Regions from separate parts of the Homo sapiens genome. Here regions 1 and 2 are each linked to region 3. Evidence: fine-mapped expression QTL. A gene starts in region 3. Each other region holds a variant in brackets. All regions are shown on one strand. Distances are between the middles of the regions. Region 1 holds the start of LOC105374790 (a long non-coding RNA gene). Region 2 overlaps ARHGAP25 (Rho GTPase activating protein 25). Region 3 holds the start of ARHGAP25 (Rho GTPase activating protein 25).

Evidence for each region.
Region 1: its variant is fine-mapped to the expression of ARHGAP25 in whole blood (TOPMed, PIP above 0.99).
Region 2: its variant is fine-mapped to the expression of ARHGAP25 in whole blood (TOPMed, PIP 0.94).

The regions. Positions count from the first base shown.
Region 1 is chr2:68,762,049-68,770,233 of GRCh38, reverse strand. All of the region lies in intron 1 of ARHGAP25 (Rho GTPase activating protein 25), which reads right to left. LOC105374790 (a long non-coding RNA gene) reads left to right here and starts at 7,564. Exons shown (of 3, transcript XR_940225.3): 1 at 7,564-7,628. The variant T/C (reference allele first, on the strand shown) is at 3,876.
Region 2 is chr2:68,812,324-68,820,508 of GRCh38, reverse strand. ARHGAP25 (Rho GTPase activating protein 25) reads right to left here. Exons shown (of 11, transcript NM_001007231.3): 6 at 7,090-7,222; 7 at 4,147-4,220; 8 at 2,515-2,636; 9 at 1,190-1,386. Among named protein-coding and RNA genes, the nearest start is that of LINC01888, 16 kb to the left of the region's middle. RefSeq lists an enhancer at 4,472-4,972. The variant AG/G (reference allele first, on the strand shown) is at 4,376.
Region 3 is chr2:68,731,662-68,739,846 of GRCh38, reverse strand. It overlaps ARHGAP25 (Rho GTPase activating protein 25), which reads right to left and starts at 5,036. Exons shown (of 11, transcript NM_001007231.3): 1 at 4,587-5,036. The coding sequence starts at 4,647. RefSeq lists an enhancer at 42-271.

The DNA.
Region 1 (8,185 bases), 30 kb before region 3:
TCAAGCTCATCATGCTTACCACCTCATCAAACTTACCACCTTTCCCCTTCTCACCTCTACCATTCCTCTGGCTAACACTGACACACATGCCCAAACCTGCTTTACCTCCGCTGGTCTCTCTGATGTACTTGAGTGACATTCTCCCAGCCAACCAATCAACACAGAAGGCTGCCTGTTCCTTATATTCAGCACTGACAGCATTGCTTATGACGTGAGCCTTCTCAAACAGAATTCTGATCATGTTACCTTCCTGCCTAAAAGCCTCTGATGACCCCCAGCATCTCCCTCCTAAACGATGAAGTCTAAACTGCCATGGAGTTGGAGTCCTTTGCGGCTTTTTCTGCTGCATTTCCTGCTCTTTCTCCATGCCCATCCTGCTCTTTATCCAGGACAGTATGCTATTCTCTCTGCTGGAATGTCCTCCCTACCCACCCCCACCTACATCCAATTTGACCTCTTGGAAAACTCTTACTTATCCTTCAAGAATCCCTTCAGGCCCCACTTCCTGTGAGAAGCCTTCCTGGCCCTGCCAGACTTAGTTGCTCCCTGGCTCTGGACCCTTGTCAGTGGAGACACCTGTGTATCGTAGCCTTTGTCGCCTTGCTTGGTACTTTTTTCTTTTCCTGTCTTCCCTCTCCACTTGCACTCTAAGAAGACAGGGGTACTCCCTTGATGTTTGGCCTTGCTCATCCTTGTATCGTGCACCTAACACAGTGCCTAACAGAGAGAAGGAAGGAGAAAGTAGCAGAAGTGCACAGGCTTCTACATACGCAGCCTTGGGTAAGCCGTATTCTATCTCTGAGGGCCAGTTTCCTCCTCTGTAAAGCTGTGATAATAACATGCATCTTATGGGGTGATAAATCCATAGGGATTAGTAAGGGTAAGTGGACAGGTCCCAGCCAGTGCCTGCTTCTTAAAACATAGAAATTAAATGAAAGCTATTATTATTAACATTATTATTATAGTATGGACTCAATTTTATTCTAAATGAGAGAAAAGAAAGAGAATATTACAGAGGGGAGGGATGAAAAGAGGGAGAGAGATGGTATAGAGGGAGATTGGCTGGACATTGCACAATATTCCAGGTGCAAAGCCAGAAGCCTGGATTAGGATGGAAGAGGAAACAATATGAGAGGCTAATACTGAGAGGACTCAGCCCCCTGCTGAACAAGGAGGAGCAGGAGACAAAGATTTTTGTGAGGTCTGGGGTTTGAGTGGCTCTGGTAAGGTAGCCTTCCCCATTCATTCATTCATTCATTCAAGATTGAGGACTTGACATGCACCAGAACAATTTTGGGTCCTGAGGATATGAGATCAGCCAGACACAGCCCTGATGGATCTGGGAGACCCATTCATGGAAGCAAGAAAGGAAATCAGAGAACAAGGCCAGTTTGAACAGGCAGGTGAGTCCAGTTCTGGACATGATAAAGTGTGAGGGTGGACTGAGAGCTTCAAGCTTCCCGAGAGTTTTGCTTTTGATAAGTAAGGCTTATGAATTAAGAAAGAGACTAGGGGGAGAAAAGAGGTGCAAGTGAAAGCCAGAAGATTTGAGTGACGTGAAAATCTCAGACCAGAAAAGTTATTTGCATAGACGTTCAGGAACCAAAGAAAAGATGGCATAGAGGAAACCAGCACAGAGGGAAGCATTTCTAACTTGAGGCTGTGGGGATAAACTGAGATGCAAGACAGAAAAGGGTGCTGTTTTCCTTGGGATTTTTAGTAAAGCTCCACACTTCCTAGAAAAGCATCTGGCAATTGAAGCATCTTGATAAATATTTGCTGAGTTAATAAAATAAATGTTTTAGAACGAAATGTGAGCCACCATGCAGGCATTTTGTATTTGCGAGAAATATTGGCCAATTTACCTATTGGCGGGATTTCTGGATATGTTCACTGCATCCACTTGAGCAGAGTGGACGATGGAAGATATAATCCCTGATCTAACAATAATGAATATCAAGTTACTTATGTATTGAGTACTTACCACGAGCCAGCCACAGTGCAAGCACTTTATAGAGCTGTGTCATTTAATGCTCATGCTCTTTATGTAAGTACCATACTGTCACCCTCATTTTTCAGACCAGGAACCAAAGCTCACAGAGGTGAAATGATCTGCTCCAGTTAACAACTAGAAATCTGATTTCAAAGCCCAATATCCATACCTAAGCCACAGCCCAGAAAGGAGCATGTATTCTTGTGGTGAAGAGAGGCATCCACATTGGAGATGGAATCCATGTCTAGTAATTCACAGGGTTAAAGAATCCAGAGTGAAGTGGACAGGAGAGACCATGCCACCTTTCACTGAGCTGGGAACAAAGCCACTACTCCTAACCTATCATGTGAAGCAGCTGCCTCAGCCCCACCCATTTTGCCTCTAGATTGTGCACAAACAATTTTGTGCTATTTCCGCCAGTGTATGCTCTGCAAGGCTCAGCAGGCCTCGAAAACACAGTGACAGAGAAATGGTACTGAAACCTCAAGCCCACCACTGAGGCTGTGCTGATACCCCAACAAGAAAACGGACATATTAGGTAATCCTGCCACGTCTTACCAGCTGCTACCCAAGCTCATGTGGAGAGACCTAGGGATTCTGAGCAAGGTCCCACGTGGCCGAGGCATGGGAGGGAGAGAGAGTGAGCTAAGCTACCGTGGGCCGGCAGTCAGGCCCACACCACAGCTGAGGAAGGAGCCGACTGGGGAGCTCTCTGAAACAGCAGACCTGGCATTGCTACCACCTGAAAATGATAAACAGATTCATACGTCCCTGCCCACACCCCGCACACATACACACACGCAACGCCCCTGCCACATTCACACATACATACATGCAGACCCCCCACCTATCCTGTTATCAGACTGCGGGATGATGGCCCTCAGTTTCCACCCAGAAGGAAATTAGGACATGTGACTTCAGAAACTTCAGGCTCGCTTTCTGTATCCCTTTTCTGTCTTCAAAGCAAACGCCACCCCCCCATTGAAAAGCACCCATCATTCTTTTGAGTTTCGTTTTTAACTTTAGTATGAAAAGCACTGCCCCTTCAAAAGGCATCTTTACTGTGAGACTGATGACAGCAAAGGAGCCTTCTCTCTGTACCCTGAAATTAAACCACACGGGTCTTCCCAGGGCACTCACCCTTGAGACAAATTTGTATAACCGAATTCATAGAAATATCTAAAAGTTGTTCCCTAAATGCCTGCCTCAATACTCCGGAATTGGGCAGATTTCATTTTCCCATGTTCTATGGATTCTAGAAATGCCCTTTATTGTTTGACAAGTGACTATGTCAACCTAAAGGAAAAGAATCTGCTTTGGAAAGGGGCTTGGCACCAATAACTATGTGTTCTGCAGGAAGAGGTAAAAAATGCTGTCTTGGTAGCAATATGAGACAGAGGGAGAGAAATTATCTGTGTGTGTGAGAGAGAGAAAAAGAGAGAGGGAGAGAGAATGACAGAGAGTGAGAACAAGAGAGAGGGAGAGAGAATGACAGAGAGTGAGAACAAGAGAGAGAGAGAGAGAGAAGGGGAGAGAGAGAGGAGTACTGGCTTTCTGTTACTTCTTTCTTATCAGCAGCTCTGGAAACCTGAGCCAGCAACAAATATTGCAAGGTTTTTTTGCACGCCAGCAAATTTGTTTCACCTAGGGTGCCTCTCCAGGGCCACCCCTCCAGTGTTCATGTTTTGTGGCTTTCGTGTTTCTTAGGAATTTAGAGTGCAGTTGCCTCTTGTGGGTCTGTGTGTCTCCATCAGTTGCAACACCTTACCCAGCCCTCTCCGCCTGTCTCTGCATAACAGGAAGCCACGTGTAATAACAAGAAGCTTGCGGAAGAACACTGCCCCAGAGCTGCCTCTTCCTCAGCACAAGGCAAAGTGGAGAT[T/C]TGGCAATCAGAGGGCAAATTTTCTCTGTAGAAAATTCTTTGACAATGTAGCTGGTTAACTGCATATGCAAGCTACCTGCTTTCCCAGGCGTTAGTGTAAGGAAGAACAATTCTCATCAGGTAGGACTGCAGGATAATTAGTGCAGTAAGCTCTGCCCAACACCCTAGTGGTGTGTTACATTAGGAAGAGCAATCGAAGTACTGACCCCTCCATTGCCAAAGCTAGTCATTTATTTTAGGTAAGAGGTTTTGGTTCACTAGTCACTAGCATTCATAAATAAATAAGTGCATTAGGATGCTTGAAATATTTGTATTGCATAAGCATGGATGAATTATATGGCCTGAGTAATTCACAGGAAGGACCCTTCCAGGGCAATGCTCAAGTACTGGCAACTACCATCAAGCACTGGCCCTTGAGGAGGCTACAAGCCATTACAGCCTAACAGACGTCACTCCAGTCAGTTTCTGGGGCCTCTACAGGTCTTAGGGAACAGTGATTTTAAACTTTAACACTACTGAGAGTTAAAGTGACCAATGAATAATGCTAGCAGTGGGGTGGGCCCAGGAAACGAGTCATAATATGTTTCTCCTATTCTACAACCTGATAAAAAGATTTCATTAAAAACTGAGACAATTTGATCATGGATAAAGGATAGATGATACCAATGAATTATTGATTAGTTTTGTTAGGCGTGATCAGGACAATGTGGCTAGAAAATAAAATTTCCATATTTTTAAGGATGCATACTTAAGCATGGGGAAAATGTGTCTGGGATTTGTTTTAAAATATCTTAGCATAAAAGGGAATAAAAGAAAAAGAAAGGGATAGATAAAACAATGTGACGAAATATTCTGTTGAACTTCAGTAGTGGGTCTACATGGGGGTTCATTATATTTTCTCTGTTGTGTTTGGAATGTTGATATAATAAATGATCTTTTTAAATATTTTATTAGGCTTAAAAATAAATTCAATAGGCTTGTTGGGTTTTTTTTTTTTTACATGTCAACTATTGCTCTAAACTTCAACTTGTCTATTTTCCAAGGTCTGCATTTCAGACCTGTTACTCCTCAGAGCACAGCGGAATGACACTACACAGATGTTATACCACTTACGTACACATTCCCTCCCAGACAGATCCGCCTCCATATCCCTGCACTGTCACTTTATCAGCTGATGAATGGGAAGAACTGAGGGACTTACTGAGGCTGCCAGTATGGATAGTATTTCCTGTAAAGTCAGCTTTTACCCCAACACTTACTGGCAGAGAGAGAGAAAGGGCAGCAGAAACCGGAGGGAGCCCAAGGGTGGTCTGTGAGGGAACTCAGGAAGGAATGACCACCTAGAATTCTAGGTGACCTCATGGCAAGAGCTTCCATTTCCAAATTTCCATTAAAATGACAAAGGGACTAGCTCAATAATAACAAGGGGAGATCTAAAATGAAAGTAAAAGTAAAGAAGGATTCTATCTGCATGCCATTTGGGGGGAAGACGGATTTCTGCAAGATGTAGGATAGGCAAGGCTAAACTGAAGAAAGCTGTTGGTCTCACAACTCAATGCATATGGAACAGCCTGCCCCAGAGGGAGCGGAAAGGGCCCAAGAAAATCCTGCACTAACAACACCTAGAGAGGAACAGCAGCAGCATGGAGGCAGGGAACAGATGGAGACCTGAGAGCTCCTTCCAAGTGCGCACAGAGGTCTGGCTGGGGCATGTTATTTCCAGTTTACCCTGGGTGCCCAAAGTCAGGCCAGACAAAAAGTAACAGCTCTGTCCTGCTGGCTCCTCAACCAGGTCACGATACCAGTGAGAACAGAGGGTGCCTGTCCACCTAACCTGGAGCTACACAAGAAGAAAAACAAGAAGAAAATGAACTTTCCTTCAACAGAGAGGGTAGCTACCCTCCCTTAACCCCTTAACTGGATGCGTCTTAAAAAGTTACACATAAGCTTGCCATAGCACCCAGCAATTCCACTCCTGGGAATCTATTCAGGGGATGTGAAGGCACACGTCCATAACAGTTTTTGAATGTGAATGTTTCTAGCAGTATTATAGATGATGGTCAAAACTGAAAACAATCCAGAAGCCACAAACAGGTTACTGGATAAACAAAATGTGGGAAAGCCAAACAGCGCAATACTACTTGGCAACACCAAGGAGCAAAGGACTGATTCATGCCACACAAAGAACCTCAAAAACATTCAGCTAAGTGAAAGAACCTGAATGCAAAAGACAACAAATTATATGAGTCTGTGCATAAGAAATATCCAGAAAAGGCAATTCTGTAGAGACAGTGGTTGCCAGGACTGAGGGTGAGAGCAGGGATTGATTGCAAAACGGCTGGAGAGAACTTTTTGGGGTAATAAAAATGTCCTAAAACTGGACTATGGTAATCATCACACAACCCTATAAATTTACTAAAAATCATTGAATTGTATACTTACAATGAAGGAATTTTATGGCATATAAATTATACCTCAGTAAAGTTTTTAAAAGAAAGATTAGAAACTAAATAATATATATAACTGCCATACACACAAAAAACCCACCATGGAAACAGTGAAGAGTAGAACAGTTTCTGCAGAAAAAATGAGAATAATTTTCTACACTTTTTATGTGGTGAAACATGCCAGAAACTCTGCAGAGTTAGAGATTTTTGACTGTTTTGTCACTCAAATGTCTGGAATATTCCAGGAATGCAAGAATACTTCAATATTTAAAAAACTAGTAAATGGTTTAGCCCATCAATAATTTAAAAAGTCTTATGTTTTCAAAGATTATGAACTTGCTTTTGATAAATTCAACATTAGTTTATATTAAATGTTAGTTATAAAGAACAGAAGATCACATTCTTAGGTGTTAAAGTGTATCTCAAACCGAAAAAAGGGGAGGGAAGAATTGAAGGAACGCTCTGTATTGCTGAAAATGCAACTACAGAAAATTGGAAGAATTAAACATTTTTAGGATTCAGGCCAAATATTTGCTTGGTGTTTTAACTGTATATGGAAAAATGATGAAGTACAGCAGAGAATCTTCAAAGAAACAGAAAATGACACAGCAGAATACTTCTGATACTTCTACTGTGTCATATAATTGAGAGCTGTGAAGTTTATGAAAATTTTCACTGCTGTGACACTTTGCAATTTTGTTAAAGATTTTTTAGAGTTTGATAAAGAAAGCATTCTAAAATTCATGAAAGATGATCAAATACAAAAAAGCCAACATCATTGTCTTGGTTACAGCTAGTGACTTGTGAAAAAGTATCGAGATTTTACTTTTTCATAAAATTTTATTATTTATCAGCATTTCTATCAACTTTGGGCTACACTTCATGATGCTTGAGTAAGGCTTTGCAGAATGCAGTATTTTCCCTGTGATTCAGCCACTGACATCTGGTAGTTCTGTTTCCTCTTCAAAGCTGTCAAACATTATCAGCTGCCTGAAAAATGTGTTAGGGGGTTTCCCTTTTATCACCCAAGGTCCTCACAAAAATGTCAGGACTTATTTTGTATGTATCTGTGAGCAACTGTAGTGTTTCTGTCTGACCTGGACTTTCTTGGCCCACACACTAGCCTCTGCTTGACATTTCTTTTTGGCTGGCCACTCCTTCACAGTTCTCATGGAAGAACTAGAAGAACACCATTTTTGTTTCTTTTTTCTTTTTCTGTTTGTTTTTAGCCAGTAGTCACTGAAGGACCAACTAAGCTTTTGTGCAAAGGCTGAAGAAGCAGGAACCAGAGATGCACAAACAGGAGGTAAAAGAAGGAGAACCATGAGGGGGTGACTCAACAGGCTAACACCGGGACCCCAGGATGCGGTCCTAATTCCAAATCCCTCTGGCTTAGCACATCTAATAGCATACGAGAGCTTTTGAAGATGAAAAATGAGTTGTAATATTTGACTTGGGCTATTTTTCTCAAATTATAACTTGCGTGATTTATTTTTTCCCAATTATTTTTATTCCAGTAAAACACACATAAAATTTACTATCTTATTTTTGATTGTACAGTTCAGTAGTATTAAGTACATTCACATTATTGCACAACCATCACCATCCATTTTCAGAACTCTTTTCATCTTGAAAAACTGAAATTCTGTACCCATTACAGAGTTAACTTCCTTTTCCTTCTTTCCCTAGCCCTGGTAACCACCATTCTACTTTCTGTCTCTATGAATTTGTCTCCTCTAAGCACCTCACATAAGTGGAATTATACAGCATTTGTCTTTTTTGAAGCAGCTTATTTCACTTAGCATAATGTCCTCAAGATTCATCGGTGCTATAGCATATTGCAGAATGTCCTTCCTTTTTAAG
Region 2 (8,185 bases), 81 kb before region 3:
TTGCAGCCAATTGCTTGCTTCAGAAACCCCACCCGGAGTTAGAGGTACCTGGGTTCTGAAGGGAGGACTGGATCTGAGTCCTCCTCTATAACAAGCTAGTGCTACTACATTGGGCCAGCTGCTCAACCTCTCTGAGTTTCTGCTCCTCAATAACACAATACGAATGATAAATTCTGCCCTACAATGTTATGTAATATGAGGACTCTAGAGGTGATCAGTGTAAATTTCCCAGCATAGTGCCTGCCCACAGAAATCAGTAAATGGCAGAAACCTATTAAATGAGTAAAATAATAGCTATTCTCAAGGACTGTGGGATGATCTTGTTACATGAAGTATGAGCATTTTTAAATTTTATTTTAGTTTTAGAGTGTTAGTAGAATGCATTGCCTTCAGAAAGACCTATCCTAAGAAAAACTACAACCACTACCCACTACCTGCCTTTTAAAAACAATCTTCAGGGCTAACAGTACTGTAGGTAACTTGAATCATCTGGTCAACTAGAAATTTGAAATCCATTTTTTGGCCACACATAAAGATCAAGCTACTATATAAAGTTCACATGTTCTTTGTAAAAATATTTGTTCCTATAAATATATAAAAATATTTGACCTTTGTAAATTATTGTCCTCACGAGGTCTACATTTCAGAGTCAGCAGAGCTTTTGGACATTGGGAACGTGAGTTTCAACCCTTCAGCACAAATGTGGGGGCTGACATGGCTGAGACGGCTTATCGAGGAATGAGAAATATTACACAAACACATCACATACTCTGAGAAAGGAATCACGTTTCATGGGTTAGCAGGAAACCAGTTTTCTCTGGACGTTCACCCAGAATTTTCAACAATTCTGACCAAAACATTTACAATGTTGTATACATTTTTCCCACTGAACTTCTCTGGACTGTATTTGAGTCTCTCTTTCAGAGTGGGCTTCAGTGAGGACCTCATTGCTCAGTCACTGGGTGATTGGCACACTTGTCACTCACCCCCCTCAAAGATGCCAATAGAAACTAGATTTGGAAAGAGGCCAGGCTTTCAAGGTGTGTTCAGATGAGTCTGTAGCAGCAGCGCCCACTGCCACTGCATCACCTAAAACTCCCCAAATTGCCACCCGAGAGCAGGCCTTACATGGGATGGCCTGGACTAAAGGAAGAACCCAATGGAAGCAGGAAGGTTCTCTGCACCTTACCATGCTACTGAAGCTGTCTGTCCTAGAAATTCGGAGGTCTTCAGTGGCATCCCAGCCTACAGAGCTTCGGGCCACTGGAGCTTTCTTGGGGTCATTTTTCTGGGCAGGGGGTGACAGGGGTATATCCTTGGACTTGGGGAAGAGGACTTCATGGTCTCTGATCATCATAGTCATCACTCTTTGGATCTGAGGAGTCCCTGAAAGACAGAAGAAAAAGATCTGTTGTGTAGTGTAGGAGGCAGGTAGTCAGTCCTCAAGGATCCCCACCCGTGGATGTCTCCAAACTCGGTTCTAAAACTATAGGGCCCAGAAGGGCCTCATTTTGCTTCTCAAAAGACCCTTTTTAATTGCTTGGAGTTGGAGATTATGTTGAAAGGGATGGAACAGAAGGACACGGGAGTAGAATAAAAGAGGGAGCTGTTTCAGAGGGAGCCAATAGTCCACTGGATTAGTTTTTGATCAGGAAAGTAGGCAATAAAACAGCAGAGAAAATGAAGATATCTTTCTCTCCTGATGTGGTCCTCAATATGATATCTGGTTTCTTATCAGACACAGAGCAAATATGTGCCAGGCTTTCTGCCCCCATGCCCATGGCAGATATCAGTACTCTGTGTCAGGACACAGCCTCAGAAGCCTGCACAGCACAGCTTTTTAAGCAGCCTTTTTGTGGGCTGGCTTGTAAAATGAAAGCTGGCTGGGCACAGCGGCTCACGCCTGTAATCCCAGCACTTTGGGAGGCCGAGGTGGGAAGATCACTTGAGGTCAGGAGTTCGAGACCAGCCTGGCCAACATGGTAAAACCCTGTCTCTACTAAAATTACAAAAATTATCTGGGTGTGGGGGTTTATGCCTGTAGTCCCAGCTACTTGGGAGGCTGAGGCAGGAGAATCACTTGAACCCTGGAGGCAGAGATTACAGTGAGCTAAGTTTGCACCACTGCACTCCAGCCTAGGCAACAGAGTGAGGCTCCAACTCAATAAATACCTAAATAAAAATAAAATAAAATAAAATGAAACCTGCTTGCTCAATCTGGCTAAGGGTATTTAAAAGTAATAAAAGACTGACAAACACTAGCTAGCTATTATTGTACTAGTCTACTGCACTGTGGGACCATTGGGCAAACCCTTGACCTCTGTCCTTTGTTGTGATCTGAAAAATGGACACAATTCCTGCCCTGCCTACCTCACAAGGCTATTGCATGATTCAGATGAGATTGATAACCAGCTTAAAATGCTTGGGAAACTACAGAGCAGTGCACAAATATCAGGGGGAATGTTGTAATTGTTATTTCCTGGGTACCTGCTTTCACTACGGGACCAGCCATACCTCTCATGATCACGGCAGGGTCTTCGACCTTCGACCTGATGAGATTCACACCAATCACAGTAGCCAGGTTGTCCACACTCATCTTGTTAACAGCACAGTTCAGCTGTATTTCATGTAGGAACCTACAGACAGCCAAGAAATCCCATGGTAGAAAGCAGGAAGTAGCCAGGAGGAAGCACTACAGGGTTCCAATGAGAACTCAGGGATGGATCCAATGCTTTCCTCCCAGACTCAGGAATGAGACCAGCCTGCTCTGCCCACAAGAATTTAGCCTCATCCTGAAAGACCCAAGACCAAGGAAGGAAGAGAAATCAGGAGGGTCCTGCCCAGCTGCTGGGGTGGGGGATGGGGAGGTGAATGGAATCACATAAGCAGGAGGCAAGATCCACTTCCAGGAGCTCAGACTGGACTAGAAAAGGTAAAATGGGTATCTGCCCATACCCATGTCTGCCTTGATAGGCTTATCTCCCAGCTCTCAGCACTCATCCCACCCAAGTCTCCAGAGAGGAAAACTTTATTGGTAAGAAGATCTCAGGCCTGGGGAATCCATGGTGCCTCCTTGCTCTCATCCTCTGATTAGAGCACAAGCATTGCTAATTCTCAGCAGGTTCTCCATAACTAATACTGAATTTTTGTTAAAATTCTACCCCTTTGAGGCACAAAGCTCTCAGATTCACTGTAAAAACAGGGAATTTCTAAATACTCTCTCAAAGAACCATTTAAAAATGGATAGAATGAAGCAACACAATTTCAAATACAGAGCAATTATTAAATATTGGTGACGTGTCCAAATGATGAAACATTATGAAATATTATGAAGTTATTTATAATCCAATTTTATGACATAGGGAAATGCTCATAATAAAACATTAAACCAAAAAAAAGGACACAATCCTTTATATAATTTTGATTTAGTATAAAATATTATTCCCCTATATTTACATTAAGGTATGTAAAGATTTATCACAGAGAGAAAACACCCAGAAGGAAAAATGCCAAAGTGTTAATAGTGCTTGTTGCTGGTGAAGGGATTGTGGGTCCTTTTTATTTCTCATTTACTGTTTGCTATATCTTCCTGGTTTCCAAGTCAAGCAAGCATGACTTTTATAATCTAGGAACTACAACAAATTATTTTTAAAAAATAAAAGACAAAATTCAGGTCAGTCTGGGATGAAGATCCCAGTTCCCAGCCGAGCCAGATCTGGGTCAATCCACAGCTAGAGTTGCCACAGGGGTGGCGCACAGCAGGTCCCCAGAAAGGGCTGAAGGAAAATAACCAGGGTGGCCCAGAATGAATGTCTCCCTGGAGCTAAGCTACGGCTCAGAATCACAAAGATGGGAGATCATTCTAGAAACATTATAAGGATTCTGGGTTCTCTTGCATGTACCAGGACTCTGGGCAGTGCTGAGGCAGGCCTAAATGGGGGAGCACGTTCATTTTTTGGTTCAACCAGGTTTTCAGAATCCTTGAAATTATACAGGAAGCTACTTCAGTGCTATGTGAATACAGCTGATCTTCCAAAGTGCTAGACCAGAATCTCTCTGTTCACAGACGTGGTCCCTCCTCTTCTAACTAGGAGCTTCTTTCTGATGGGGTTGAAAACTGCAGAGTTGATACCAGGGGCCTCTCACCTGCAGATGTAGCTCAGGAGACTATAGTTGTCACGAGGAAGGATGGAGAGCTGCTTCATCAACTCCTGCTGAGCCTGGGAAGAGATTTACACAAGTAAATCATTTACCAGTAAATGAGCCTGCCCATGTGCCAGCAAGGAGACCCTGGGACAGAATTGGTGTATCTGTGCAGAAACAACACTTTGGCAGTCATTCCTGTTCCTGTAGTTCTGTGGGTTTAAAAAAAAAA[AG/G]GGAAATAACTCAATTCTCACAGAATTTTTTTTAAAAGGGTCATAGTTTTTGTTATGTATACTTTTATTTATATGTAATTATGCCACTGCACCCCACCCTTGACCCTGAGCTACTCTAAGGAAGGACTGTTTAACAACTCATACGTTAATTGTTTGCTGAATGAATGCTTGAGAGGTAACAATCCAATAAAGAATAAGACCACAATAAGATATCTCAGAATCACTTTAAGACTGGTGAGAAAAGGAGGATTCTTCTGAGAAGGATTTCAAGCACTGTGGCCTATCTGAGACATGCCGGGACACAGAGACAGGCAGACCACGCTGGAGGACGGTGCAAGGTCAGACTGTTCAAGCTCTGCAATGGATGGCCGTGGATGTCAGGCAAGGTCTACTAGGAATGCATGTGCTGGAGAGAAGAGGGACAGCGAGCTTTTCCGTGTTCTTTTCAACCACAGCTGCCTGTAGGGTCTGTAATCACCATCTGCAACATGGTGCTTGTGAGAGTACACAATTCACTAGCCGGGCGTGGTGGCGGACGGCTGTAACCCCAGCTACTCGGGAGGCTGAGGCAGAAGAATCGCTTGAAACCGGAAGGCGGAGATTGCAGTGAGCTGAGATCGCGCCACTGCACTCCAGCCTGGGCGAAAGAGCCAAACTCCATCTCAAAAAAAAAAAAAAAAAAAAAAAAAGAGAGTACACAATTCACATGCCGGTGTGCAGGCACTCCTCAAACCTGAGCAGCTCTCCTGCAGAAAACGCACCCTCCAGCCTTGTCAGCCTACACGCAGCAGCTTCCGTAGATATAGACCTTCTTAGCGTAGCATCAGCTTCATGCTGAGATCCCTTCTTCAGTTGAGTCGAGTAAATTCATTGCAAAGGTTGCTACAGACTCACCCCTCCTAGCTGCCACCTCTGCCATGTTTTCACCAGTGAGAAGGACCTTGGTCCCTGTGTGTAGACATGCATTGCCACAGATGTGGAAACTCTCAAAGATGCTGAGATTAAGAAAGCTGGGAGAAGCAAGTCTAAAGTGAGTGCAGGGGTGGGAATCTTATTGTCAGAACAGCATCTAGCTGCCTCCTTTACTTTCCCCAGAACCCAGGGGTGAGATGCGATCTGAAACGTTTATCTTTTTAGCTGCCTTTTAAACCTTATTCCATAAAATTTTATTACTTTCACAATGGTGAGCAGATATACCAGTATAAGTTAAGACTTTTCATATCCCTTTCTCCCTCCCCCAATAAAATTCTTAAGTTACGCACAAAATATCGTACCTCAGATCCATGCAATCTAATTTTTGTTTGGAAAAGAGCTACAAAACCTGTATCATGTTCTCTTCCTTTCTTAATTTTGAAATATAAAGTCAGCTTTTCTCTTATGTCAGGATCTATTCAAATCATGATGCTCTCCCCACCCTTAGTCAGGGATGGAAGTTCTCACAGCTGTGTTTTCTTGCAGGGCTAGGGTGCTATTTCTTCATTCGTTTTAAATAAATATATTCTATGAAGCAGACTATCTAATAAATTTTGAAGTGTGGAAGATAATAAACCTTCCCTTATATTGAAAAAAATTTTAAAGTCACCCACCAGTATCATATCCCTGGGTCCTCAAAACAATCCTAGGCATGGCTGATATTACTATGAAAATTATCTAAGTTTGTGGTGTCTAATATAGCAGTTACTTGCCACATGTAACTACTTAAATTTAACTAAATCAAAATTAAATAAAATTAGGAATTTGGCTTCCCAGGTGCACTAGCCACATTTTAGATGCCCAATAGCCATGTGTGGCTGGTGGTCACCATATTGAACGGTGCAGATATATAAAAGTTCCATTACCATAGAAAGTTCTATTGGTCTAAGTAAATAAACTGAGTCTTATAAAAGATGCATAATTTGTCTAATGGCAAAATCAAGGTTAAATCTAGGTCTCATTATAGATTTTTCTGTGCACCATTTTGCCAGAGAGGGCTTTTAACATAGTCGATATAAACATCAACTTCTTCATGGATCACTTGGATTTGAAAATCTTGTTTAAAAATCATCAAGGTTTATTGTTGTTGGTTGGGTTTCATCAGTTTCTTTGGTTGTTTGGTTGGTTGGTTGATTATAATAACATGACTACAGTGTGGTCATTGTTGACTATAAGGCCTCTCTAGAAATAAATTTATACAGGATCAAAAATCTTGTTAGTGAACTTGTGCACTCTCACAAGCATATTGCAGATGGTGGTTACAGACCCTACAGGCAGCTGTGGCTGAAAAGAAAAACAATCAAAAAACCCTCCCTGTCCTTCTTCTCCCTGGCACATGCATTCCTTGGATGACCACGCCTGACACTCACAGCTGCTGTAGAGCTTGAGCTATGTGACCTCACACCTGCCTTCCAGCCTGTCCTTGTGTCCCAGCAAGTCTCAGCAAGGCCATCATGCTTGAAACCGTCCTCCGATGTATCCTCCTTTTCTCACTACTTTTAATGTGATCTAGCAGTATTTGATTATGGTCCAATTCTTTATTGGATTATTGCATCTCATGAAGGCTGTGGTTTGCCAGTCATTATGATTGAGTTCATATACCTTTTGTTGCTGAGGAAGTTGCATTTGACTATCTTACCAAAAAGTACAGGCCCCTTGACCCACTGTTGCCTACTGGATTAGTGTCCAGAAAACCAATCACTTTCTTCTAAGGCAGGACAACTAACTCTAAGATGCAAACCTTTGCCTCATCCGCATTCGTGAGCTGCCCACAGAGCAGGAACCCTTCGTACTGGCTCCAGGGAACCACGGGCTCTGGGAGGTCTCGGAGGTAGAGCTTTAACAGGGAAGCCACAGTGTGCACATCTGTGTCTCTGGAAGAAAATAAGCAACGCTCTGTGAAACTCTTTGAAAGAAAAACTTTAGGATGTTCCTCTCTTCCATTCTGATGATTCAGTGAATAGAACCATAAATTACAAAGGGAAATTTTGCAGAGGAGTAGTCTGATAAAGAAGAATCAGACCAAAACATTTTTGTTAATTCGCCCTTCTGGAACAACATTCTTGAATAAATGTTCCTCTGTCTCTTCCACCCAACTACCTCAAAGGTAAGTTCAAGGTCTACATTTTTACTAAACGTTCCTTAATGATTTTCGTCTTTATTGCTTTCTTCTTTCTTCAAGTCATTTAGTGCCTCACAATTAGCATTGTCTAATTAGTCTCTAATATTGCTTGTGTTAACTCCTTTATATCCTTGGTCCATTCTTCTCTTTAATCTTCCAGAGTGCTTAAAATAGTTCTGAGGTTCACTCACGTATTTACTCAATAATTCACTCAATCAATAAGCATCAAGAAAACCTATTAGGTGCAAGATACTGCAAGATACTTGTCAAGCACTGGGATTTCAGTAGCCAATCCAAGGGACATCAGTAGCCATCCAATCCAGGGATGGAGCCCTGGCCCCATCGAGCCACAGAACTCTGGGGACTCAAGTATTAAAATGTCCTTACAATACTGTGCGGCTAATGCCATGATATGGGAAGCCCAGGACCCAGGATCCTATGGAAGTATGGAAAAAGAACACCCAAGGCAGAGATGGGAACACATAGGTGACTTGTCAGATGAAAGAGTACCTCAGATGAACTCTGAAAGGCGGTGAGGAGTTAGGGCATGAGGCAGGCAGCATGTGTGTCAGCCTGGAGCATGAGGAGAGGACGCCTCCCCGTGGGCCTGATTGACTGAAAGAGGCACGGCTGTTCAGTTCAGCTTCTCCATTTACAGGAGGGCTTGGCAAGCCACGGGCCAGGAGCCAAATCTGTCCCACTGCCTCTATTTGTA
Region 3 (8,185 bases):
ATAACACAAAAAATGTCAATTATTTTCTCTCTTTGTAACTTTTGTATCTCAGTTCCTGTCTGGGGACTCTACAAAATTTCCATGCCATCCTCTGTGACAGAATCCCCACAATCTGCCTGTGCCTCGCTGTGGCTCTCCGTCATGCTCTTCCGGTACTATTTGGTCTCAATTGCTGTGGCCACCAGTGGGACTTTGCTTCTGCTCTTCACTCCCTCCCATGTCTTGTATCTTAACACAAGTTCAGACCACTCGACTGGGGTGCACCTTCATGCCAGATTCTTTCCTCAAGCTGCCTTGTGTGTGATAGGACCATTTTCATCAACTTACTTCTCTCAATTGGTCCCAGCATCTTTCCAACACCCCCATAGTGGGCCTTACTCAAAAGGATCACATTCCAGCTGGTGGAGTCTCCACAGAGTTCTCCCATTGGATGCTACATGAAGATGCTTCATAACTGTGAGGTGAGAGACAGGGAGATGGCAGCACTACCATTAATGAAGTGACTTATAGTGATGTATACCCACGCCAGGGCCATTGGGCATCTTAACCCTGGCCTAGTTTCAGACACATAGGCAATAAGAACCATCAAGCTAGCCTCTGCCAATCCAAGTGCACAGTCTCAGACAAAGTACAGAATCTAAGCTGACCTCATCTGGCATGTACAGGGGGAATTTTGTGCATGAGTGGATATAAAACCAGGTCCTGTTTTCCCATCACCACTTAGGTTGGTCCCCACTCTGCTGCTGCTGCAGAAGGCCCAGAGGTGACATCAGTCCTTTTTCCTCAAATGGCCAGAAGGCTGTTGGCCTGGGCAACAGGAAGCATGCACTTCGTGGAGAGAATTTAATTTATGCCTAAATGTTAAGTCAACAGCAACATTACGGACAGACATTTTTACTTAAATAACCAATGGCAATGTAACCTCTGCATAAAAATAGAGTGGGCCCTGGAAGGAACAGCTCCCTTGTGTAGCTGTTCACTGTCTACAGAAGGCCATGTTCATATTCTTTTTTTTTTTTTTTTCTTGAGACAGAGTCTTGCTCTGTCGCCCAAGCTGGAGTGCAGTGGCATGATCGTGGCTCACTACAACCTCCGCCTCCCGGATTCAAGCAATTATCCTGCCTCAGCCTCCCAAGTAGCTGGGATTACAGGTGCCCGCCACCATGCCCAGCTAATTTTTTGTATTTTTAGCAGTGACTCTACTTGCATGTGTGGGGACCTTTATCTATCGGGGACCTTTATCTATCAGGGACCGGAGGCTACTCATGGAAAGCAAATACTTTGGGCACAGCAAACAGACCACATTCAGTCCATAACCCAGGCTGGTCTGGTTAGCATATAGTAAGTTTGGTAATGAATTGTAAAGAAAGCACTCACCACTTTCTGATGTTCAGAAAGCTGAACATCAAACAAACACAAATCAGTTCACCATGGGCTATATAGTTTCAGGATTCTCCTGAAACTGGGGAACCAGCATTTCAGTGTTCAAATAAGGTACAAAATGTGCTCAAGTAGACTGGCCTGGTCATTGGGAAGCCATGTAACTCTTTCAAGAAAGCCCTGTAACCTGGGGCTGGAGGTCCAGAAAGTCTGGACCTGTCCTCCAGTGATGACAATTCAGTTAAAAAGGCAAAATATTTGAGTAACTGCGTGAAGGCAGTGAAAGGCTGTCATGATTCTAAAATTGAAAATGATAAAGGATCACAGGAAGAAGTGTGTGCTCTTGGCTCCACCTCAAGTCAAGACTGTTTGTTCTGCATTTTCCTTTTTCTTCCAACCCCTATTCCTGCCAGGATCAATAGGTCAGATTCAGGAAGTTCTGTGACTTTTCTTCATCACTGCATGAAAATCTGTCAGACTCATGGTAGTGGACTCAGGTGAGTCTGCCATCCAGCAAGACCCTCTTCAGCTCTGAGATGGAAGTACAGTGGAGAGTCCCTCCCCTCGCTCTCAGAGACTTTCACTTTCACTCCAGCTCACAAGATTCTGGGGAAACTGGAAGCATAGCTCATCAAAAAAAGCTAGGGCCCCTTTCCTGGGTCACATTCTGGGTCAGTGTCTTGCTATTTCACCAAGGGCCCATTCTAGTGTCCTTCCTAAGCTATGGCCTGGCTCCCTGAGGACAGATCTCAATAAAAGCCTCCAAAAAATTGAGCTACAGAGTGAATCATGAGTTAATATTTGGGTTCTAGTCCCAAATGACCTTATATTCCACCCTTTTGGTGATCATCTACTCCAGGAGTTCTCAATTAGAGAAGATATTACCCTCACCCCCATCCCCAAGGAACACTTGGCTATATGTAAAGACAGTTTTATTTGTCACAACTGGTAGTGGTAGGGGGGTGTTACCATCACCTAGAAGGTAGAGGCCAAGGATTCTGCTAAACATCCTATAATTCACAGGACAGGCCCCACAACAAAAAACTATCCAACCCCAAATGTCAATGGTATCTAGGTTGAGAAAACGTTAAAACCACAGATTGTCAGCTTTCCTGACATAACTCCCAGTTCCACAGGTCTTCCCAATAGAGGTAAGTTTCTTTGATATATTGGTAAGCCAGTTCCTACAGTTACACCTGGACACAGGATGCTGGAGAGGGGACTGGAAGTCCTGTGACTGAGTCAAGGGCTCTCCCCCATCAGAGGACTCAGATTATGATCTGAATTCTAGTTCATGTGACACTTATAAATGCATCCTACTGTAGTCCAGTCCTTCAGGGTGACAAACTTATAGATAGCATGGATAATGACAAGGGCTCCTCTGTATTTCATTATGTCCTTATTATTATTTTTTCATTAAGTAATACTAAATAACATCATCTGCTTGTTTTTGTTGGCTGAAGCATTCATTCAGCCAACAAATATTTATTGTGTGCCCAGTTAAGAACAAGCACTGTGCCCTATACTAAATGGGTGAAAACTGTCTGCTGGGGCTAGTGAACATAGACCACAGTACCTACAGCAGGAATTCTTCCTCAGGTGAGGATGAAAGTGGGGGGTGCTTGTCAAAATGCAGGATCCTGGGCCTTCCTCCAGAGATTCTGATTTTGTAAGGATGGTGCCCAGAAATCTGCATTTTTAGCCAGCACTTGATGTGAGTCTGATATAGGTTATCTATGGGACCATGCTTTAAGAAACATTGGTAAAAATCATGAAATTCACTCAATCAAATCCCAGACCTGAGTATATGCAGTCTTGAGCTCTAGTGTGGTAATTTCCTATATCTGTGAAAAAAATCATTTAACTATTAATTGTCTCAACTTTCTTGTTTTTTAAACCAAAGGAGAGTAAGACCCTAATAACCTGTGTTCAAACATAGGTGGAGAGAAGGCAGAATGACCTTATTTATGTAGAAGCAGGACACTTTCAAAGGAACAGAACCATATAATTTGTATGACATAGATTGAGCATTAGCCAAGTACATTTGTATCAATGATAGTTAGGAGGAAAATCTCTTGCTTTTGTAAGAGGTATGAACATTACCTTTTCTCTGAACTGACCTCAGCATACAATCATTCACAGCTTGATTAGGGAACGCTAATCTCCCCTAGTTATCAAGATAAATGGCTTCTCTGATTACTCTGTTTTCTTTCAAACCCTTTCTCAGACCTACATCATTAATGCTCCGCTTGTGACTTTTCAATGGAGCACTTATTTTAGTAGCACACTTAACCCCATTAGAGGTTCAAATCTAAACCTTTTTCCAAGCAAAATTCCTCCAAGCTGTTAGAAACACCTTAATACTTATCTATATCTAATATCAAGGAAGTTATCTCATGTATGGGTGAGATACATAAATGTAGGCAATAGTTTTCAGCCCGATTGCTCTGATGTGAATTACTGTGACCAATTTAGCAATAGAAGAAATCTATGTAAAGAACTTCATAACGAATATATAGATTAAACTTAATGTATCACTATCATCATTAGAAGGACAGGGTATGGATTAAAGGCCAGACTATCTCAGAAAATATGCCAGTCTCCCTTAAAATAATAAAAAATACATCTCTTTTCCAACTCATCTAAGAATTCCCTCCCATTCTGTTCCTTTAATTATATTTTTATTAAGTAAGGTCTTTATTATACTTTAGTACGTTTTTATGTTCCTGTCTTGTTTTTGTTGTCTACCTTTTGCTACTACCTTTTAATACACCTTGACTCCTGGGCTCACAAAACAGAACACCCATTGAATTTACTTACAGATTGAGCACTTCAAAAGACTCTAGTCTTTGTGCTCCTGTTCAGAACCATTCAAAATATGGATGAGTTTCCAAACAGGAAGGAAATGGAATATGCTAAAAACTCACAGTTTTGTGTGTAGTCTGTAGCCTTAAATCATCCGAAGTACCCCAGATCCTGCACACCAAGGAGTGCCATCCCACTGTTTTGTCCAAATGAAAGAGAACCCCCTCCCAGCATTTTAGAACTTGGACCTGGCATGCCAACTTAAATGCAAATGGTCCCTCAAACTCAGATTTGCTGCGAGATCCATTTTTAAGTAGACTATGCTCCCTGCAGACCAACATGCAAATGGTGCTCGAGTATACGTAAGAATCACAGAGGCAACGAAAAGACACCAACCATACCTATTTTCGCAGCCTCCACTTTCAGGTTGAAATCCCAGTTCCTTGGCAATTTTAGGGACATTTTGCTTCCAGTTTAAGTGAGTAGTTAGTGAAGCGGTGAGTCTGTCACAGTTTGCGCCCTTCTTGTCTTTTCACTCTTTCCCTCTGTTTTTGTGTCTGTTTTTGTTCCTCCTTATGATTGCTTCACAAGCAATCTTAGGCTTGAGGCTGATTTGCCAACGTGTCTCCTCCTTTCTCTTAGATGAAAGGTCCATCCATCTGTCACTGGAGGATGGCACCCAAACTCCCCCAGCCTCCACCCTCAGTCCCACAGGGGCTAGCACCCTGCTTTTCTTGCTTTCAGTTTTACCAGAAATATCCCAGTTGACACTTCCCTCTGCGTCATGGGAAGCAAAGCTCCTTTTCGAAAGAATCTCAGGCCTTACTGAGTTGAGGTCGTGATAAACAACTGCTGCCTCTTGGTTTTGTGTGTGTGTGTGTGTGTTTCTTTTTTAACTGTCTGCTTCCTTGCATTTGAGGAAGTGGGTGGCTGTTCAGTGAAGATGATACATTATGAGCACTCTTTCTTGAGAAAATGGTTTTTGGAAATGCTTGAAAAACCAGAATGGTTGCTTCTGTTATAAAAGATTACAGTTTTAATTAGAAGAAAATGTCGAAACTCCCATCATCTACTTCAACTCTAAGCTCTCCTCTTCCTCACCTAACGGATCAAGCATCCAAAAATGGTCAGAAAAACAACAAGCATTCCCCCAAAGTTATCTTCTTTTAAATTCTTCCTGCTGTAAGGACCATGTCGCAAGCTCTCCAGGTGCTCAGGATAAAGTTTGCAAGTGATCTCAGCCTGATGTAGGGAGGGTTTTGATGTATTTGGCTTAATGAAGCAACTTAAGCTAGGTCGACCCACTCACATATCCTAAGGGTTCTTTGGCATTGTACACAGGGTGTGGGCTTTAGAATCAGGGTGTGTGGGCTGTATACATGGTGTGGGCTTCCATTTGCTAGCTCTTCAACTTTTGAACAAGCAACTGAATCTTTCCAGACCTTAATGTCCTCATCAGTAAAATGGGGTTGATAATAACCACAACTCAAAGGGTTTTTGCAGAGGAATCTAGTGCAGAGCTTGACACAGAGTGGTTGCACCACACACATTAATTCAACCTTTATTCTATTCTATTTAGTTCAGTTCTGTGACAAGCTTTCATGTTTAACTGGGTCAGCCTAACCTAGTGCTTAAGCATTTGGGCCCTGGAAACAGATCACTGGTAGTCAAATCCTGGCTTTCCTGCTGTGGGACTATGGACAAGTTTCTTGACCACTTTGTGCTTCAATTCTTATCTGTAGATGGGGCAAATAATAGGGCTTACTTCATAGGCTGTTGTGAGGCTTTAGTAGAAAAGCCAGTACAAAGTGCTCAGAACAGTCACTGCTAGCCAGCATCTAAGCTGCACGCCTTGCTCCATTCATTCTCCAACTCTCCTAGATGACTCTGTCATACTTTCTTCTTCACCTGCCACTTGCTTACTCTTACTGACGACCTGGGTTCCCGTTTCATTGAGAAAATCAATGTAACTGAAAGAGAATGTCCACAAGCTTCCCTCACTCTATCTGCTCACCTACCTGCATGCAAGCTGTATCCCTGACCTTATTCTTGGTACAATGGGTGAACTGGCTGTTAACACTCTCCCATCCCTATTGCATCATCAATTTCTTCTCTCTCTTTGATCCTTCCTGTCAGCGTTCAAACTTACTATTTTTTATCCCATAAAAAATCTCTCTGGATGCCACCACCCCCTTGGGCTAGAGTCCCATTTCTCTCCTTCATTTCTGAACCAAGCTTTAGTAAGAATTGTCTAACTTGCAAATATCTCTCCTCTTATTCTCTCCCGAATCCCTTGGTTGATGTTTTTGCCCCTATGACTCCACAAAATATATTCTCATCAAGGATACCTACGACTTCCCTGTCACTAAACTCACAGGTCAGGGCTTCATCTTCATCTCACGGGCCCATCAGCAGTGTCGGACACATTTGATAGCTCTCTCCAACTCTGAGCCCTCTGTCCATGGGGCTCCCACGGCCCATGGTTGGCCTGGCTGTCTGCCTGCCTTTCTGGCTTTTCCGTGTCTGTTTTCTTGCTGATTCCTTCTCATCTCTCTGACCTCTAAATATTGAAGGAAACCAAGACTCGACTGGACTCTTTTTCCATCCACACTCACACCTTGGTGAGCTCATCTGTCTCAAGGCTTTAAATGTCACATATTTGCAGATGATTCCAATGTGTATTTCCAGCCCAGACCCCCTGAACTCCAAATCACATGGATCTCTGCTTAGATCTATAGTAGCCATCTCAAACTAAATGTATCCAAACTGTATATCCAGAGAACGAGGCTGAAGGAACAGTGGTGACCTGGTGTATACTCCTGTCTTCAGGAATGAAAGGAGCACAAGAGAGAAGAACCTTGCAAGCGCATTTAACGCCTCTGCGCACACCCTGTCTGCTCACATTCCATTGGCCAACACAGGTCACATGGCCAAGCTCAAAGTCAGTGAGGCCGGAAGTACACCCAGTCCTCAGCAGCAGTGGGGAGGGAGAAGGGCCGGAGGGGTGGAAGAAGGGCCGGAGTGTTTGCTGATCAAGACTCCAATCCACCACACTCACCCAGTCTACCCAGCTACCCTCCAGCCTCCCCAGGGAGCTGGATTCCGCTGAACTTGACTCAGCTACTTGGAGACATTGCACTACTGCCTGCCTGACCCAAACACCACTGCTCTTTTTCGTATCCCAACTTAATTAAGCGGGTGTGAGAGAGGTAGCTGTCTGGCCCGGCCCAGCAGCATCTCCACGGGGGAATTCGACACCATCTAAAATTTCAGTCCTGGGACCTTTAAACTGAGGAATGTTGAAAATATTTTGAAGGTGTCATTAAGAAACACGCAGGGAACTTCCTTTACTTTTCAGGGTAGGTTCCTGTCAGTCTTGGAAAAACTCGTGACCCATGGGGGAAGTTAGTTGTGCAGATGCGGAAAGGCAATCAGATGGAAAGCACACTCCCCACAAGGGCCCAACACAGCAGCCTTCCCCCACCACAGAGCTCTCTCTCGGTCAGTCAACTGGGTACTGCGCTCCCTCTCTCTGATCTTCATAAAATGAAGAGCCAAATGCCTTGCCTGGTCCCAAAGTTTGAATTAGCATCTGCAGTAGCGCAAGCAAACATTGTTCCATCTGTTGGCTTGTTGAATGATAAGCGGATTTATTAAGGACCAAATTTTTGCTGGACATTGGAAGAACGTTCGTGAACAAGCAGACGTGTTTTCTGCTTCCCCACCTCACCGCCCTGACACCGGCTGTTGTCTCTTACAGTCTGTTGGGGGAGAAGAACAATTAAGTGAACGATTAAATACAGTGTGAGAGAGCTATGTTGGGGAAAGTGTAGGGAGCTAGGGGGGGTGTATATGCGAGGGGCCTAACTGGACTTGGGGAGTGAAGGAAGGGTTCCTGGAAGAAGTGTCTTTTAAAGTAAGGCTTGACAAATGAGTTAGGGAGGCAAGGGGGTTGGAAAAAGGATTCCAGACAAAACCAACAATATGAATGAGGCACGGA